Regions from separate parts of the Homo sapiens genome. Here region 2 is linked to region 1. Evidence: fine-mapped QTL for protein levels in blood plasma. A gene starts in region 1. The other region holds a variant in brackets. All regions are shown on one strand. Distances are between the middles of the regions.

What was found. PIP is the posterior inclusion probability: the model's chance that the variant is causal. The UK Biobank Pharma Proteomics Project read protein levels with antibody pairs (Olink). The fine-mapping took linkage between variants from a reference panel, not from the people measured, so its PIPs are less certain.
Region 2: its variant is fine-mapped to the plasma level of the SUSD5 protein (UK Biobank, PIP above 0.99). The variant lies in the coding sequence of SUSD5. If it changes the protein, the assay may bind it differently, which can mimic a change of level.

The regions. Positions count from the first base shown.
Region 1 is chr3:33,214,577-33,224,755 of GRCh38, reverse strand. SUSD5 (sushi domain containing 5) reads left to right here and starts at 5,946. Exons shown (of 5, transcript NM_015551.2): 1 at 5,946-6,070. The coding sequence starts at 5,959.
Region 2 is chr3:33,147,823-33,158,001 of GRCh38, reverse strand. It overlaps SUSD5 (sushi domain containing 5), which reads left to right. Exons shown (of 5, transcript NM_015551.2): 5 at 3,969-7,959. The coding sequence ends at 5,260. Among named protein-coding and RNA genes, the nearest start is that of CRTAP, 39 kb to the right of the region's middle. RefSeq lists an enhancer at 3,988-5,187. The variant C/A (reference allele first, on the strand shown) is at 4,990.

The sequences.
Region 1 (10,179 bases):
TATGAAGCACTTGTGCAAACCAAAAAAATTGCAGTGAAGACTCCTACAGTTTTCGTGTACAGTCAATTATTCACCATACGATAAGCACTTCCAACCTTGCTACTGGCCCTGGTAGAGATTGACTGCTTGACCACAAGACACCGCATGAGTGTGACGCCTTAGTTGGTCTCGTGAATGAGGTATTTTGAATCACAAAGCAGAATTCTACTATCAAATGAAAATGGTACATACAAGAGTAGGCTCGGAATGAACATGTAAATCACATGAGCAAGAGGCTTAGACTCCTATGGCACTTGCTTCCACTGCTTTACTGCCTTTCCCTCAACCCACACCTATGGCCTCATGGGGAGTTTTACTTAATGGAAGAGAAAAAACTTGAACCTGCTTTATGCTTGGATGTCTATGGGGTAGGACTAGTTAGCCTCACACTGGTATAGCACTAAAAACAACAGTGGCATGAAAAGACAAATATTATGTGATTCCACATATATAAGGTACGTAGAATAGTCAAATTCATAGAGACAGAAAGTGGAACAGTGGTTACTGGCTGCTAGAGGGAGGAGGGAATAGGGAGTTATTGTTTAACGGGTACAGAGTTTCCGTTTGAGATGATGAAAAACTTGGAGGTGGCCGGTGGTGACGGTTTCACAACAATGTAAATGTTCTTAAGGCCACTGATTTGTATACTTAAAATGGTCACAATAATAAATGCTATGTATATTTTATTAGAGTAACATTTTTCTATTGAAAAGTAAAAACTAGCAAAAGAGAATCCTCCCAATGGGTGGAGCTTTGGTTTACATGAAAGGAGAGATGGCTTCATTTATGGATCTTCACTGATTTATGGACAATGCCTAATCATCAGTTAATGACTTGAAAAGTTCAGAACTAGGAGACTGATAGCAAGGATGTCAGTGTGGTTCTCCTGGGATGGGCACAGCGTGTGTGTGTGTGTGTGTGTGTGTGTGTGTGTGTGTGTGTGTGTAGAGAGAGAGAGAGAAAGAGGGAGAGAGAGAGAGAGTGCACCGTGAGTCTTCATATGGCATTATTCCCTAGCCAGCCTCTCCTGTTGACTACGTAGAGAAAGGTTATTTAAATTGGATTTTTTTTTCATAGAGACTGCAGTTATTTGTCCTTATTGGAATAAATTCTTTTATTTTCTTGCTGTATTTGTTGAAATAAATTCTTATCCTAAATCTGACTTTGCCTTCTTTGTCTGGCTTTCTTCTACTAGCACCACTATATGTAGATGTATATAGAATGTCTTCTCACCCATGGCCATAGCAGCACACATTACATCATCTCTAATCAAGAAACTGATTTTGTAGAAATCGGTGGGGCAATAGACTCATTTCATGATATTTACCTAGAAGCATGTGGCTTGACAGAAAGATAAGTCACAGTTAAGGTACTAGCTAGAAGACAGCACCCCGGGAATTTGGGACATTCACTCCGGTTACAATATATGCCTTAAACCAGTAGCCAATATGTGGTGTAATTTCTCTCATAGACATAAGAGACTGGTTTAAGGACCAAGGTCAAAGTGGGACCTCTCTATTACATATAGTAACCCATCTAGCAAAGTTTTGCATAATATCCCCACATCCTTTAGATTGGTGAGTTGGGATACAACTCTTAGTAGTGGATGAAAAAAGAAAGAAAAAAAAAGATTGGTGAGTTGGGAGGTTTGGGTGCCCACGACAGAAATGCTTCCTTGTCAATTGGAAGCTGAGACTTTTCTCTTGTAATTTTGTAGTCCTCATGTTGAAGAACCAAGAGGCAGAAAAGAAGGTTAGTTTACTGACTGGGTGATGGATCCTGATTACCTGATTACCAAGGGGAAATTGGATTCCTGCTTCATAATGGGATGACTATGTCTAGACCTCAGAGGACTCCCATATCCAATAATTATGGTCACTGGCAAACTAATAAAGATAAGTCTTTGGCGGGAATGAAATTTTAGGCCCCTGTCATCAGTTAAAAAAAAATTCATGCAGGCCAAAATGCTCAGAGAGTAGAGGGAAACATTGGAATGATTGTCAAATAAGGCCTCATGACCAGTTACAGAAGTGGGGACAGTAGAATCTATATTTTGTGACAACTGTTTACTTCTCCCCTTTTCTGTTTATGTGAAACTGTATTTATGTGAATGTAACCACTGATGGTTAATATCACAGTTTAGCTCCAAGTGGAAATTTGACTGAGTTGACATTATTCCCAGGTCATACAAGAGAGGACTGACAGGATTTTGTGTTTCTCCTGTTTTATTTCTAGTTATTCTTAATCAAATGAAAGAAAAAAGTAGATGAGCTGTGCTGGTTGTTTCCCATTTGCCATTCCAGATCCACTCTTTAACCTTCTTTGTCCAACCCTGCACCCTAACAAGGTGACTTCTAAGGACCACTGCACCTGTGCTTCTTTACCCTTTAGCTTTTAAATGGTTCAGCCAATAGAAGGTATCAAGAGGAATATCAAGGATAGAAGGAGAGAGAGGTCAGGGTCTTTCTTCCTCACTCCCTCCCTACCAGACCAGTGGCAGCATCTTGATTTTTCTACCTATGGGTATCCTTTTTTTCAGGCGGCCTCTTTCATGGCCACAGCTGTTGCTGGTTTGGTAACACCTCAACCTTCCCTCACACCTTCAGGCCTCACCATGGCTACAGCTTCCAGCTGTTGCTAGACCCAGGAGTTTCACCACCCCTTATTGGTTCTCTCGGTCCTGTCCACATCACTGCATGTGGTCCTTTCATCAAACTCTCTTCTATTAAACTTTTTTTTTTTTTTTTTAAAGACAGAGTCTTGCTCTGTCGCCCAGGTTGGAGTGCAGTGGCACAATCTTGGCTCACTGCAATGTCCGCCTCCGAAGGTCAAGCAATTCTCCTGCCTCAGCCTCCCAAGTAACTGCGACTACAGGCACGTGCCACCACGCCTGGCTAATTTTTTGTATTTTTAGTAGAGATGGGGTTTCACTGTGTTAGCCAAGATGGTCTCAATCTCCTGACCTCGTGATCCACCCACTTCCCAAAGTGCTGGGATTAGAGGCGTGAGCCACCGCACTTGGCCTTCTATTAAACCTTCTTTATTTTTTAGTGCAAGGACTGAAATTCTGATTTTTAAAGTATTTGTTACTGAAGTATAAGTATTCAATTAAATACAAAGATTTCAAGTGTACAGTTTAGGGATGTTTGACAAACATATACACTCATGTGACCACCATCCCCATCAGGAATAGAACATTTTCATCACTTCAGATGTTCCCTTGTGTTCCCGTTCTATCAAAGGCAACCACTGTGTTGACTGTTTTCACCACAGATTAGTTTTGTCCTGTCTTGAACTTCATATAAATGGAATTACACAGTATGAATTGTTTTGTGTAAGACTTCTTTCACTCTGTATGCTATCCTTGAGATTCTTTCACGTGTTGAGTAGTTCATTCAGTAGTTCATTCCTGTTGTCGAATAGTATTCTATTGTGTGAATATGACAGTTTGTTTTTCTATTCATCTGTTGATGATATCCGAATTCCTTCTAGTTTTTGATCATTGCAAATAAAGCTGCTATGAACAGTTGTGCACAAATATTTTTGTGAATATAGGTTCTCATTCTTTTGGATATAATCCTAGGAGAGGAATTTCTGGGTCCTAAGGCAGGTATATGTTTAGATGGAACAGCCGGTTTTCTAAAGCAACCATACCAATTACCCTTACAGCATGCCATCTCCTCACATCAGGACAGGCCAAGACAATTGTGAATAAGCATAATCTTGAAAATGTTAGGAGAATTAAGTAGTAATATTCAATTGACTGTTTTTAAAATGTTCCTAGGCAAAGCTCCTGAGTGAGTGAGTTGGTAGCTCTTGGCAGGTACCTTCTGATCCCTCCCCTCCGTTCTCAGCACTAACCAGGCTTTAAAATGACCCCTCCAGTCCAGACATGTGAAGTCTCACTCCTTAGGTTACCAGCTAACTGTTAAAAGGGAAGGAGCTGGCCGGGTGTGGTGGCTCATGCCTGTAATCCCAGCACTTTGGGAGGCCGAGGCCGGCGGATCACGAGGTTAAGAGATCGAGACCATCTGGCCAACATGGTGAAACCCCGTCTCTACTAAAAATACAAAAATTAGCTGGGCGTGGTGGTGCACGCCTGTAGTCCCAACTACTCGGGAGGCTGAGGCAGGAGAATCGCTTGAACCTGGGAGGCTGAGGTTACAGTGAGTCAAGATCGCTCCACGGTACTCCAGCCTGGCAACAGAGCGAGACTCTATCTCAAAAAAAAAAAAAAAAAAAAAAAAAAGGGAAGGAGCTAAGTAAATTCATTTATACTTGTCAGGCCTCACTGCATTTAACACCTCACTGCATTAACAGCTACCACGCCCGGCTAATTTTTGTATTTTTGTAAAGATGGAAATTTCACCATGTTGGCCAGGCTGGTCTCCAACTCCTGATCTCAGGTGATTGGTCGGCCTCCGCCTCCCAAAGTGCTTGGATTACAGGCCTGGGCAACCGTGTCCGGCCAGTATTTGTATTTTGAAAGCAAAGTTTAATTATCCAAAATAATTACTCATTAATAGTAGCCCTTGTAGTTGATGGGAAGTAATAAGGAGAGAAGAAATCTTTTCAGTACATTTCAACAATTAATGCAAGCTGAAAAATGACACCTGTAGTAAATCAGATGTGGATTCAAATCCAAGTTCTTACTGTGAAAAGAAAGTAAATTATTTCAATGTCTGTGTCCTGGTTCATTAAATGAGGATAATCATCTGCCCCTTTAGCACCAATCACTTTTTCAATTGTAAGTATATTTTATTTAAGTGTGAACATTTTTAGGACCGATTGCAGCCACATTCAGGGTCTAGCACAGGGACAGGCATGTATGGGCACTCAATAGATGTTTGTTGACCCATACATCAATATAAAAGGGATTTGCAAATTGTAGAGCACCGCGCATGCCTCAGTTATAACAATACTGATCTTTATTACTCTACCTATGAAGAAAGCAAGTTCTTCTTTCACTGAACAGGGCTGGTGGTAGGGAGACAGGCTAGGGGCGAGCAGGAAGAAGGAATCAAGTCAAACAGGGACCCCTGCAGCAGAATCCATTGGGACACTTTAACTTAGAGTGTAGATTCCCAGACCAGACCGACAGAGTCCGAATCTCAGACCCTTTCGAGGTCAAAAAGCCCTGATTTGGGAGGTGGGTGATAATGGTGACAATCTCACTAGCCCTCTTACTGCTCCTTGAGAAATACTAGCGTACCAGGAAAAGTGGTGAAGGAAGCGTTCCTGAAGATATCCTTTCCTCAGTGACTCTCAAACTTCGCTTTTAGGAAAGAGGAATTTCGCTATTCCATGCGTTTCACACCTTAGAGTGAGGGTGGTAGGTAACTTAGATTTTCCTCTCTTCATTAAAAAAAAAAAAAAAAAAGAGTGTTGGTGGGGAGGGGGAGGAGGCCAGTTGAAAAGTAGAGGCCGAGGACAGAGTTAGACACTCGTTGTCTAACGGCCCTGCCGGAGGGGCTCCGCCTGTCAGACTGCGTCACCCTCTCGCCAAGGGTCCCCCAGACGGGCGGGGGCTCCTTGCGGCCGGCTAGCTACTCTCCCCGCCTCCCTGCGCCCTCGCCCTCCGCCCCGCTGTACCCGCAGAGCGCGCGGCCCAGCGCAGCCCCTTTTGGCACCGAGGTTTCCAGGTGCCCAGCGCGAAGGCGGAGCCGGGTTACAGCCGCCTCCTCGGCGCCACAGAGAAGACCCCCGGGAGTTCGGCGGCCCAGGCGCTCCGGCTCTGCGTCCCGAGCCTCCCCCGGCTCTCCGCGCTCCTCCCTCTCGGCGCGCCCGGCGCGAAGCCTGCGATTCGTGAGCCGAGCGCAGAGCGCAGAGCCGAGTGGCGCACGCTGGGCAGTGGCCTGGGCAACCCCAAACGCAGCCAGAGCCCTCACCCGAGTCCGCTGGCCCGCGCACTCCCGGACCATGACTGCCGAGGGACCCAGCCCGCCTGCCCGTTGGCACAGACGCCTCCCCGGGCTCTGGGCGGCGGCGCTGCTCCTGCTCGGTCTGCCGCGCCTTTCGGTGCGGGCGGATGGTGAGTGTGCGGGAGGCGGCGGGGCGGGGGGTGGAGCGTGGGGTCCGGGCAGGGAGGGCGTAGCTCGCCGGGGCTGCTCCCTCTGACCGGCCCGGCAAGCGGCAAGCGCAAGCCTGAGAGGAACGAACGAGCCGCGGTCCTGCGACCCAGCATCCCTCTCCTGGCCCACCAAGTCTCCGCGTGCCCGTGCGCCCAAACGCCCGCCTGGTGCCTGGACCCTCCCTTAGCGCCGAGCGCGTAGGTCCCGCAGTCCCGCCGCTGGCTTTCCTAAGGTCTCCAAGAAAGCTCGAATGAAATCACCTCTAAGGTGCCCTAGAACCTCCTCTGCTAAGGGGTGATTTTCCGCCGTCCCTCAGTTTCTCAACGTCTATTAATGTGCCCCTGAGGACACCGCCGATGGTTAGAAAACTCCCTCGGATATTTTGGCTTGGTCCGGGAAGACGTGAAAGATGAGTGGGAATCAGCGAGGCTAAGAGAGAGAGAATGGCCTGGCCAGAGGGAAAAGCACGTGCAAAGGCTGTCTCTGAGTGACAGGAAAAACGGGACAAATGATAAAGCAAAGTACCTGGAGGCGAGGGGACGTCTTGAGACATGAGGTAGAGAAGTGGGCAAGGGCCAGATTATGGCAGGTTCTCTGAGAATTGATCCACTTCTTGTTCGTTTGCTTGGTTTTTCAGCCTGAATTTAGCTTGTAATACTTGCCCTAAAATGAGCAGGATTGGAGCTCTGTATCCATTCCCTTTTGAAAAGCTAATTCAGCTGTGTTTTCATATTAGAACAAAATCCCGCTGACTTGGTACAGGAGCATCTGAAGGAAGCAAGCTTAAAGCCAGCAGTTCTCACACCCATGAGGTAGTTCTAGCTTAGGACGAATTAGACTGATAAAAGAGAAAAGCCCTCCGTCAATTTAGGATGCGTTGTATATTTTAAAATGTGATTCTTGTTTAGCCAACGATATTGAGTGAAACTAGAAGACATGGGGAAAAAAAAAAAAAGCATGGTTGTCAGGAAAAGGGGAAAGCCAAGGAAAAAACCGTCTAGGTCGTAGAGTTTTTAGTGCTCTCTGTTTTAAGTGCAGGCTTGAAAAGCTCTCCGTTCCTAATTAAGGATGAATGTCGTATTTCTCCATATCCTCAGAGAGAGTGTTAGAGACAAAACATTTTTAACTTTGAAGGCTGTTAGTAACCACTGCTAATTTTTTTAATTGACATGTATTTCACATAAAATTTGTCATTTTAAAATATACAGTTAAGTGGGTTTTAGTATATTCATTAGGTTGTGAAAACCATGGTTTGCATGCATCTAATTCCAGAACATTTCCATCACTCCTCAAAAGAATCCCATACCTATTAGCAGTTTACTGATAATTCTTCACTGTAGTGTTTTTTGACTGACATTGAGCCATGAAAATTAAGCTGATTTTAAAGAATGCAAGTAGAATAAATTGGAGCTAATATTAATCTTTGAACAAGATATATTGTGCCAACTTTAATTCCTTTTAAATAAATATTTTTGCAATCCATAAGGTTTTAGAGTTTCATCCCATTATAACTGTTTAAGTGGAATGCCATGTGGATAAGGATCAATATTTTGTGCCTGTCTAGCTTGATACGGGTCATAGAAAATTAAAGGCAGAAATGTCACTGGTCAAAGAGAAAGTAAGGACAACACCAGAGCACATGATTCTTTGTTACTGCTTGCCAGAAATGATTCCTTTTCTTCATTCTCCTTCCTTTTCTTTCCCCACTTCCTCAGTGGACAATTATAGGTATACTTCCTTATAGTAAACTCAATTTTATGAGCTCCAACTTTTATACTAGAACCAGGAAGAGTTATAAGCTATATTATCAAAGGATTCTTTTTGGTACTAAATTCTTAGCTGCCACCAGTTCCTACATTTAGTTATTTGTGTGCTATGGTGACGGGAGGAAGAAGAAGAAATGCTCAGCTTAAGTATGATGAATTACAGATGTTTGAAGAGATAGATTTGGAGAGAAACTATTTCTAAAAACGTGTCATCTGTATAAGGATGGTCTTTGAAATCATGTGCGTGGGCAGAATCCTAAGGAAAAATTTTACAGCAAGAAGACCTAGAACTGAGCCTGGAGTGAGGGAAGCTGGTTTGGGATTATTGAATCTATGTTTATGAAACATATTAGCCTGTAATTTTCATTTTTTATAATATCTTTGCCAAGTGTTGATATCAAACGTATGATGGTTCCTAAACCAAATTGTAAAGTTGCTCCTTCTTTAACTCTGAAAGGGTTTCTGCGGGTGAGGGCTTTTGTTTGTTTGTTTTGGTGTGAGATCATCTGTGTCTGAAGGTTTTCTTGTAGGAAGATTTTAAATAATGAATTTAATTTGTTTGGTAGATAAAGAAGTATTCAGATTTTAAAATTAATTTTGTGTCAATGTTGCTAAGTTTTATTTTTTAAAGTTTTTCCCCCACTTCATTTAGATTGTCTAATGTGGCATATACAATGTAATAATCTCTAATTATCATTTCAGGGTCCACGGGATCTGTAGTGATGTTCCCTTTCATTCTTGATATTGGTACTTTGTGTTTTCTCTTTTTTTGTCTTGATCAGTCTTAGTAGGGGTTTATCCGTTTTATTATTCATTTGAAAAAAGCAACTTTTGGCTTTATTTTCTTGATTGTGTGTCTGCTTTCCGTTTTACTGATTTCTGCTCTATCTGTATTATTTCCTCCTTCTACGTTAGAAGATTTGATTTTGTGGGACTTTTGTGTTTGTTTTTTGAGCTAGAAACTTAGATCATTGATTCTCAACCATACTTTTTTGGTATTAATAATGTGAGATCTGAGGCTATAAATTTCTCTTAAACTACTTTAGTTTCTCCATAAGTTTTTGGCCCTTGAGTTGACATGTTTTATTTCAGTTGGGATTTCTTCTTTGAACACAGTTTATTTAGAAGTATATTTTGTAATTTCCATGCACAAGGGGATTTTCCTAGTTATTGCTTTGTTATTGAGAGGCAGTATAACCAAGTGATTAAAATCACTAACGGAGCCATACTGCCTGGTTCTGTATCTCTGCTGTGTGATCTCGGACAAGCATTAATACTAAACCTTAACTATAAAATGAGGATGATAATACCACCTATATCATAGAGTTGTCATAAGAATTAATTTAATGAGTATTTGTAAAGCAATTTGAACAACATCTAGTCCATAGTAAACACTATATAAGTGTTTCATATATAAAATAAGTGATTTTAGCTTTGTTGTAGTCTAAAAGGCATGCTTTGTATGATTTTTGTCTTTTGAGGTTTTTTTAGATTTGCTTTATAGCTCAGTATTTGATCAGTTTTACAAATGTTCTGTGTGTGCCTAAAATGAATGTGTATTCTGTAGTTTGGTATGCAGTAGTGCACATAGGTTCTTACATCAAGAGTGCTAATTTTGTTTTCTGTTTTAACAATTACTGAGAGGGATAGTAGTTTAAAATTTCCTCAAGGATTGTGGATTTTTTTGTTTTTCCTTGTAGTTTTGTTAATACTACCTTTTTGTAGTTAAATGTAGGAGTGCCAGTCACCTATGGAAGTGTTTATTTAAAATTTTTTTTTGTATTTTTATTATAACTTTTGGTTCCAAAGCTGTGGAATTATTATATTTATTATAATAATTTTGCAAGTAGATGACTTGTGTCTTAGTCTTTTGCAAGCAGATGACTTGTGTCTTAGTTGTGTCTTAGTCCAATCACTGATATATTATGAAAAAGTTGGTGACAGATGGAAGTAAAGTGTCTCATTCTAAGTAGGTGTTTTCTCCCCTGCCTTTAGCTTAACTTGATAGGGCCACCCAAGGCATTGCTTCATTCCTCCAGGAGGCTCCTGGGGACCTCAGTGCTCCCTCCGGTACCGTGGTTTCCTTGCTTAAAATTCTCATTTGCCTTCAGCCTGGGCTTTCACCTCTGCTTGAATTCAGGTTCCCATCCCCCCATTAATCACACATTCTTTGAGGCCCACTACATGTCCATATATTAATGTGCTATAGGAAGCCAAGGTGTACCAGACATCATCCCTGTTTTCTTGTGCAGTAGGACAGAAGTACAGCAGACACAAATGAATTTATTGTGAAAGGGGCCTGG
Region 2 (10,179 bases), 67 kb after region 1:
CTTGGGGCCTGCTCCCCAAGCAGCTCATTGCTAGTGTGTTAGTTAGCTTTTTCTGCATAATAGACCATCCCCAAAAACTTAGTGGCATGAAACAACAATTTATTCTGCTCCAGTTCTTTGAGTCAGCAGTTTGGGCTGGGCTCACTCAGGTGAATGTGGTCAGCCACAGCTGGCTAATCTACGGTGGCCTCAGTTGGGACGTTTACCTCTCCTTCATGGGGTCTTTTATCCTTCAGCATCCAGGTTTGTTCACATGGCAGCTGGCAGGGCTCCGAGGCAGAGAGCAAAGGTATGCAACACTTTCATTGCGTTCAGTAGGTCAAAACAAGGGACAAGGTCAGCCCAGATTCTAGAGATGAAAAAATGGGCCCCATCTTTTCATAGGAAGAGAGGTGCAAAGTCACATTGCAAAAGGACTTGATGCAGGGAAAAGTGGAGATTTGTGGCCATTATTGCAGTCTGTCTTCCACAGCCAGTAAGTACACACATGTGCACAAGCAATCTAACCACCTTATCCTGAGGTCAAAGATATACGTCATGACTTTCTTAAATCTCAGTGTGACTTGTCTGTATGTTTTGGGTAAATTGTAGTGAAAAGTTCTGTCATAGTGGCATTCATTTCATTTTGTTGTTTTTTGAAGGAAGGACAGTACTTCAATGCAAAACCTAACGCCCATTCAGAATGTTGGGTGAAAATTTATGCACACAAAATCTTTGAAGTTCAACCCTATAGGATGCAAGACCATGAGATTCTGTCCCATATGCTCCAACGGGGGAGGGAGTATTTATCCTGTTCACCAGTGATCCCAAACTCTAGCACATAGTCAGCACTCAGTGAGGTCTGTTGAATGAAGGAGTGGGTCAGTGCAGGTTTTGAAATGAGGATATAACAGGGAATGTGAAGGGCCTGACTGAGCCCTGGGAGCCTGTATGTGAATTCTACAAGGCTCATTAGAATGGTCCAGCCATCTGATATGTTTTTTGTGTGAGGTTTTATGAACAGGACACAATGGGGTGTGATTGGGCTGTCCTTTTCTAAGCATAAAACACGCATGCATTTGATATTTGTCAGTGATGTTTGCTCTTCATCCACTGTTTCCCTTTTCTGACTGAGGACACATGTAAAGTGAATGGGCTTACATGTCAGGAGCAGATCAGAAAAGATTGTTAACTTTTATTTATAACTCTGTCAGTCATTAAATAAGCAAGATACAGAGTCTTATTCTCTAACAGCCTTTAGAAATAAGCCAGATACCCACTAATCTAGTTTCAGAGCCCAGGAATGCACCACATGACACCTCAGCATTCCATCTAGACCTTGGCTCTGGAGCTCTGTGCATTTTGTTCTTCCGAAGTTGAAAGTTAAGTGGGAGAAGCAGTCTGTTTTAATAATTTAAGTGTATCTTCCAGTAGGACTTGGCTTTCAAAGACCATTGAGAGAGGGGAAGGTCAAAGGGCTGCTGCTGTCTTCTGAGGACACCAGCTTCTTGAGCTTTCCTGACCAGTTGATTCCCCTCTCATCGGGCTGTCCTTACATTCTGGTCTCCTAGTTGTGGGGCTCTATTGCTTCTTATTCAGTTGAATTCAGAATACTTTACAGCATCATCTCATGACTTGGAAGTTTTACAGAGAGCAAATCAGTGTTTTAAAAGATGCATTTGGGGGCCGGGCGCGGTGACTCATGCCTGTAATCCCAGCACTTTGGGAGGCCGAGATGGGCGGATCACAAGGTCAGGAATTTGACACCAGCCTGGCCAACATGGTGAAACCCTGTCTCTACTGAAAATACCAAAATTAGCTGGGTGTGGTGGTGTGCACCTGTAATCCTAGCTACTCAGGAGGCCGAGGCAGGAGAATCGCTTGAACCCGGGAGGCGGAGGTTGCAGTGAGCCTAGATTGCACCATTGCACTCTAGCCTAGGAGACAGAGCGAGACTCTCTCTCAAAAAAAAAAAAAGATGCATTTTTGAACTTAATTATAAAATACATACGAATCATAAGGCAACAAACCAATGAATTATCAAGAATAAACACTGATATTTAGGCCTTGACACAGGTGAAGAAATCGAATATTGCCAGCACCCTAAAAGTCCTGTTTGTACCATACCCAGTCATCACCCCTTCTCTCCTACCCAAGTGTAACTACCATCCTGAGTTCCGACATCCATAGATTAATTCTGCCTGTTTTTAAACTTTATATAAATAGAATCAACACAGAGTGTGCACTTTTGTGCCTGGCTCAACATTATGGCCATGCAATTCATCTATTTTGTTGTGGGAAGCAGTGGTTGGTTCATGTTTATTGATGTACAGATTTGCATTGAGTATACCATAACTGATGTACCAGTTAATGGACATTTGAATTGCTTCCAGTTTTTTACTATTATGAACATTCTTAGGCGTGTCTTTTGGTACCCATATGCACACATTACTGTTAAGTGTATATATTTAGGAGTGGAATTGCTGTGTCATGGAGCATCCATATGTTCAATTTTAGTAGAGATGCCCAGTTTTCCATCGTGGTTGTTCCAGTTCACACTCCCACTAACAGTGCTGTATATCCTAGTTAACATTTGATATTGTCGGTCTGTTTAATTTTAGCCATTCTGGTGCTATGCAGTGGTATCTCATTATGACTATAATTAACATTTCTCTCTTACTAGTGAGGTTGAGCATCTTTCCACATGTTTAATGACTAATCTGATATCTTTCTGGTGATGTCCCAAGTCAACTATCTTGCCAATTTTTCTATGGTTTGTCTGTCTACTTAGTATAGATTTGTGGGAGTCCTTTTTAAATTCTGGATACAAGCCCTTTGGAGGTCATATGTGTTGCAGATAGCTTCTCTAACTCTGCCTTGCATTTTAACTCTCTTTGTGGTAGCTTTTAATGAACAGAGGATCTTCATTTTAATGTAATCCAGTTATCTGTCCTTGTGCCAATACCACAGCCTTAAAAGGTAATGCAGTTTTATAGTAAATCTTGAAATGTTTTGCATATGTCTTCCGGCTTTTTCTTTTTCAATATCGCCTTGTCTATTCTTACATTGCATTTCCATAAACTTCCATCCATTGCATTTCCATAAACTTTAACATTCAGTTAATGTCTGAGATTTTTATTGGAATTGTATTAGATCTGTATAGATCGATTTGGACAGAATTGCCAACTTAATGATCTTGAGCCTTCTACTACATGATCATGGTCTATTCCTCCATTCATTTAAGTCTTCTTTAATTTTGCTTAGCAATGTCTTATATCATTCCATGTAGAAGTCTTGAACATCTTTTGTTAGATTTATTCCTATGTGTTTGGTTTTTTTAATGTTATTGTAAATAGCATCCTTTTAAATTTTAATTTTCTGTTTATTGACAATATTTAGAAATACAATTGATGTTTATATTTACTGTAGACCTAGTATCCCTAATAAACTCACATGTTTTTTGTTGTTGTTGTTTTTGAGTTGTTGTTTTTGTTGTTGTTGTTTTTGAGTCTCACTCTGTCACCCAGGCTGGAGTGCAGTGGTACGATGTTGGCTCACTGCAACGTCCGCCTTCCGGGTTCAAGCGATTCTCATGTCTCATCCTCCTGAGTAGCTGGGATTACAGGCATATGCCACCATGCCTGGCTATTTTTTTGTATTTTATTAGAGATGGGCATTCGCCATGTTGGCCAGGCTGGTCTCGAACTCCTGGCTTCAAGTGATCCACCTGCCTAGGCCTCCCAAAGTGCTGGGATTACAAGTGTGAGCCACCATGCCCGGCCTAAGCTCAGATGTTAAATTTTAGTTACTTGTAATATTCATATGTAGATTATTTGGGTTTATCTATGATACACAGTCATATCATCTGTGAATAATAACAGTATTATTTATTCTGTCCCAGCCTTTATGCTTTTAATTTCCTTTTCTTATGTTCTATACTGGCTCTGTGCCTTTGGAGCTAATGAGGTTTTTTCCCTCTTTTCTTCCAGATGAGGCTGAGGCACACATTGACTATGAAGATAACTTCCCTGATGACAGATCTGTGTCATTCAGAGAGCTCATGGAGGATTCCCGGACAGAGGCAGATGAGGACAGGGGTCAGGGAGACTCCTCTGAGGAGGCTCCAAAACAGGACCGTCTGGTCTCCATTTCTGTGGGGAGAGAAAACATAGCCCGGGATAAAGTCTTTGTGCCAACCACAGGCTTGCCTGGTGCTGGGAGCAGTGTCCCCGCAGATTCACCAGGATCACGGCTGCTCCAGAAGCACTTGTTCTGGTTTCCTGCTGAGGCTTTCCACAAGCCTGGGTTGGAAAAGGAGGTGGATGATGACACCAAAAAGCAGTTTTCTGCTGGAGACAACCACAGTGGTGTAAAATTGGTCCCAGGTGAACCTGAAACCAAGGTGATCTACGGCAACACTGATGGTCCCTCGGGGCCATTTGTGGGCAAGAATGACAGCAAGGCAGGAGATCCAGTGGTGAGCAGCAGTGATGAGTCCTGGTTAGATGGCTACCCTGTGACAGAGGGGGCTTGGAGGAAGACAGAGGCAGAAGAGGAAGAAGATGGGGACAGAGGGGATGGGTCAGTAGGGCTGGATGAAAACGTCCTAGTTACTCCTGATCAGCCCATTCTTGTGGAAGTTAAGAAGCCCAAGAGTAGCACCCTCACACCAAGCGAGGGCATGACCCATAGTTCAGTTCTTCCATCTCAAATGCTAGATGTGGAAGCTTTGGCGCTCAGACCCGTGAATGCTTCCGAGACTGAGGGCATTGGGGATGGTGACTTGACGAAGTACCAGTCAACTCTACCCTGGAGATTCATCACAGAGGAATCTCCCATGGCCACCCTGTCCTATGAGCTCACCAGCTCCACCCTGGAGATATTAACAGTGAACACTGTCAAGCAGACACCTAACCACATCCCCTCAACGATCATGGCAACCACCCAGCCTCCAGTAGAAACCACTGTTCCTGAGATCCAGGATAGCTTCCCATACCTGCTGTCTGAAGA[C/A]TTCTTTGGACAGGAAGGCCCCGGGCCAGGTGCAAGTGAGGAGCTTCATCCCACCTTGGAGTCGTGTGTGGGGGACGGATGTCCTGGCCTCAGCAGAGGCCCTGTGATCGCCACCATTGTCACCGTCCTGTGCCTACTGCTGCTCCTGGCAGGTGTGGGGATGGTGTGGGGCTACCGCAAGTGCCAGCACAAGAGCTCTGTGTACAAGCTGAATGTTGGCCAGCGGCAGGCTCGGCACTACCACCAGCAGATCGAGATGGAGAAGGTCTAGGCACCTTTGGAGTGGGTTCTCCCAAAGCCACTTGGGAGGAAAATAACTGTGACACATCACACGATAATTCACTAGAGCATGACGCAGGTGGACTGAGGCTCATCATTTTTTCCTCAGCCCTTTGTTTTATAGGCTGAGAAGTGTCTCTGGAGCACCTGGGAGGGCAGGGAGGCTTTGGTGACATCATCACTCATGTCAATGTCTCCTCCACCATCTGCCCTGGAATTGACTACACTAATCCCAGACCTGTGCTTGGGCCCTGTTTCCAGTGTGAGGTCAAAAATCGCCTCTTCCTTCATCACAGTATTATCTTTTTTTTTTTGAGACAGAGTCTCATGCTGTTGCCCAGGCTGGAGTGCAGTGTCCCGATCTGAGCTCACTGCAACCTCTGCCTCCCAAGTTCAAGCAATTCTCCTGCCTCAGCCTCCCAAGTAGGTGGGATTACAGGCATGCACCACCATGCCCAGCTAATTTTTTTATATTTTTAGTAGAGATGGAGTTTCACCATGTTGGCCAGGCTGGTCAAGAACTCCTGACCTCAAGTGATCTGCCCTCCTTAGCCTCCCAAAGTGCTAGGATTCCAGGTGTGAGCCACATCACAGTATTACCTTTTTGAAGAAAGAAAATCACCAGCTTCATGCCCTGAAATTTTATAAATAGTCATGATAAACCAAGTGTATGAGAGCAGTATTATCTAGGACATGGATATTGAATTATTGGGAGAGGAATATGGAAGAATAATGGGTTGTTTCCTTTTAATGTTGTGATGTTGCTGAGGGCAGATGAACCAAGAGCCAGGACACAGTCTAGAAGCTTTGAGGTTTCTTTTTTCATTGTTTCTTGAAATTAGAATTTAAGACTGACATTTTGTTGGGGGAGTTGAGGAGTGAAGAAACACACATCCCCCTCTGTTCCCTCCATTCTGTGGGACAGTCTGTCATTTATTTTATTTTATTTTCAATATTTCATGGTTAAGGATTTGCCATTATTTTTTAAAAACAAAGTTAGCTTTGTACCAGTAAGTACCATTTCCTCTCAGAAGCAGTGGCCTAGTTGTCCTTGACCAGTCTGTGCCTAGGAATGTCTTGGAATTTTTGCCAGGACTAACAAAACTCAGTCCTTGGTTTCCTCTCTCAGGATTAACCATTTCTCTGAACTCCAGTAAGAGAGAATGACACGGGAGAAAAAAAAAAGAAATGTTTTCAGAGGGCCGAACACCAGGTTATCAAGTATGGGCACATACTTGATGGAGAAGCAGAAGAATCTGTGAAAGAATATGAAATGATCTGTGCTGATCTGTTCTCTAGTGTGGAAACTGGGAGCTCTGTGGAAACAGAATCCATCCTGTCTGTTGGGTAACCCATTTCGTAGCATCTAAATCATCTTAGGGTGGCTCAGCGAGGATGGTTTATGGCAGTGGTTCTCAAAGTGTGGTCCTCAGACCAGTAGCATCAGCGTCACCTGGGAATTTGTTGGAGATGCAAATTCTCTAGTCCCACCCTGGACTCAGGAAACAGGAACCCTGGGAGTAGGGCCCAGTTCTGTTTTTAACAAGCCCTCCAGGTGATTTTGATATGCACTCAAGTTTGAGAGCCTGTTGGTTTATAATAATCTCAAATGTGAACTTCGAGGCCAGCTGAAGCCCTAAAGGCACAGATGAGTATGTGGTGTGTGTTGTGTGGAAGTCAGGCATGGCTGTGTGCAGCTGAGGTGGCATTTGAAGCTGCCTAAATGCCACCTGCAATAGTCTCCTGTATGTTGGCACAGAAATGAAACATGTTATATTTTTCTAATATGAATCACCTTCTTAGAAATAGTTATCAGTGGTAAAAAGTGATGAATGCAACACATTTATTTTGAGACACCATAGCAGTCTAAGTGTTTTTGTGTGGTAGAGGGAAATCCTGATCTTTTTTATGATTGAAAAATTGTTGGTGGTGTTTTACCTAAGGAAAAAAAACATTCGCAACATGTTTTCTACCCTGCCACCTCTTTTCAGCAAGCTTTGGAAAAGTAATAGGCGAAGTAGCTGTAAAGAGAGGCAGCATAATCAAAGATCTTATTCCCCATAGTTGGGTAAAATAAAGCCTGAAGGTACCAACTAGAATACCTGTGCATCAGACGAAGTCAAGAACAATAGGAATAAAATGCTTTCTGCATGTAGCCAAAGCAAAACATAATAGAATAAAAGCCAGAGACTGTATATATTTATAAATTAGATCCTAATCTACTGCAAGATAACTTTTCTATTTTTAACTATATAAAATAACCTCTGTCTCAGCATTGGGACTGTGTTAGCAACTATTATTGTGGAATAACCCAGAACATTGGATTTATACCAACAAATAGGCAATATTAATACAGTGTATTAATAAATTTATTACAAATTATTAATACAGTGTATTAATAAATTTATTACAAATTATTAATACAGGTAAATGTTTTATTTGTAGACATGGACTGTGAAATAAACCCAACACATCAGTTTTTAAGTTCTTATTGGTGTGGTATCCTCTAAATTAATGTTATAGAATCTAAAAATTCATGTTGAAAGGGAATGATTAAAACAATGTAAATCTAAATTGTATGTCATGCATGTTTTGAGAATGGTGAATGTTTAATGCTCATGAAAATTGGGGGAGGGGGTTCTATTAACACAAAGCTTCTGAGATATTTAAAATAAATAATTATTGCCCCAACAGTTGCTGAATGTATTTTATTTCTAGGCTACTGCACCAAGGTTTAAAAAAAGAAAAAAATTCTCGCTGGGCACAGTGGCTCACACTGGTAATCCCAGCACTTTGGGAGGCTGAGGTAGGCAGATCACTTGAGGTCATGAGTTCGAGACCAGCCTGGCCAACATGGTGAAATCTTTTCTGTACTAAAAATACAAAAATTAGCCGGGCGTGATAGCATGCTTGTGGTACCAGCTACCCAGGAGGATCAGGCAGGAGAATTGCTTGAACCCGGGAGGCAGAGGTTGCAGTGAGCTGAGATCATGCCACTGCACTCCAGCGTGGGGGACAGAGCAAGGCTCCATTCAAAAAAAAAATCTCTAGTAATCTTGAAAATAATGTCTTAATACTTGCTATATCTAAGATCTAAGACTGCCCTTTCTAAACCTAACTCTCAGTTATGTTACCTCCTGCAGCAGGATTTTAGGGAAGTTGGTGGCACTCTTGCCCCCCCCTCCCTCCCTACTTCCCTCTTCCTTGCCCCGCCCCCCCCTACTTCCCTCTTCCTTGCCCCAACCAGAGACCACTTACTTCACTGCAACGAAACACCCGGGACCTCGCTATTCAAAGTGTGGCTCCTGCCCCAGCAGCACAGGCACTGCGAGCTTGTTAGAAGTACAGAATCTCAGGCCCTGCCCCAGGACTGCTGAATCAGGATCTGCATCTAACAGGATGCCCAGGTGGTGGGCATGAATGGTAAAGCTTGAGAAGCACTGGCCTAAGAGAGAACTGATTATCCCCTTTCTCCTAACTCACAGGACACTCAAAGGAGTAATTAGAGGGTTAGCTGAAGGGACTGTTCACAAAGGTGTGGGGAAAGTTAGGGGAACCATCAGGGGATGGTGGGGACCTGTTATGGAACCCAACAAGAGCTCAGTAATAGGAAAGGCCCTGCAGGACAAGGGCTCTGGCCTCAAAGAGAATGCAGCCAGTGTCCAACTGTGGCCTGGAGGAAGCAAAGATTTTAAGGAACCAGACCTTGTCTCACCCTGCCATCTCTTGTTGGCATGTCCCAGTGGCAACTGGAAATCAGAGGGTGAAGAAGCCCAGGCAATGGAACCATAGAGGTCAGGCTTCTGGGACACCGGGCATGTTGGAGGGGCATGTTGGAAGAGATACGGAAGGGCAGCTAGCAAATCCAGCTCAGACGCCATCAGCACCAATCCCATCTGCCTTATGTCCATTTTTACATCCATGACCACCACAGATCCATGCCTCCCAAGCCTTCCAATGTTGTGGACATTGTTGATGCCCCTCCCAGGTCCCCTTTGCTAGGTAGGTGAACCTGTCTTCCAGCTGCCCTGAGTGTTGGCTGTTAAAATGCTCATAAGCACGTAAGTGTACCCTTCCAACGCAGAGAATTGCCCTTGGCCTATTGAGAGTTCCCTCACCCAGGAAGTTAGACCACGGTATACTCTGCTAGGGCAGCCTATAACCAATGACCAGCTGTCATGGGAATGCAAAAGGCTGGCCTCCTTTCCTCAAGGTGGGACCAACTCCGATATGATTCATGCTCCAGAGCTCCCATGAGATCAAGCTGAAGTCAGTCTCCAACTGAAGACACATCCTTACTGGCTCCTTCCTGCTTCTCTCACACCCCTTCTCTTGAGAGCACCCCATCACTTCCCTTGCTTCAAAGGATCCTGACCTAAGACATCCATCAACACTCAACTCTTACTCCCTACACCTCCTCTCCTCAGTCCAGATTTTTTCACCATAACCTCTGGAATTCTTGGGCTGACCTCCATGTCCTCCACCTCTTCTTCAGACAGCTGTTTCAACTCTCCATAACGTGGACTTCTTTTTGTGCTGGCTGGTTCCTCACTCTTTCCACCTGCTTCCTTCTACTCTTCTTTCTCCTGCCTGCCCTTTAGTGGCATGCATGGAGCATAGTTGCTGTTGACAGTCATGCCTGAAGATGCTTTGTGTCCCTGTTTGAAACAGATTCCAAATGTTTTTCCTAGTGGGATTCCAGATCTCCTCTGAAAGACAATCTTCCGGGGGAGAGGCATGAGCCTCTACTGCCTGACAGGACCTCAGCCAGCTCTTGGCTCATGGAGAGCAAGGACCACTCCTCTTGCATGAGATCCAGGAGTCCCTGGCTTGAAGTTTCTACTTTGTTAGATGAATGTCAGAAATTTCACAGACCTGAGAAAACAGAGCTCATTACAACATAGCTTCTAG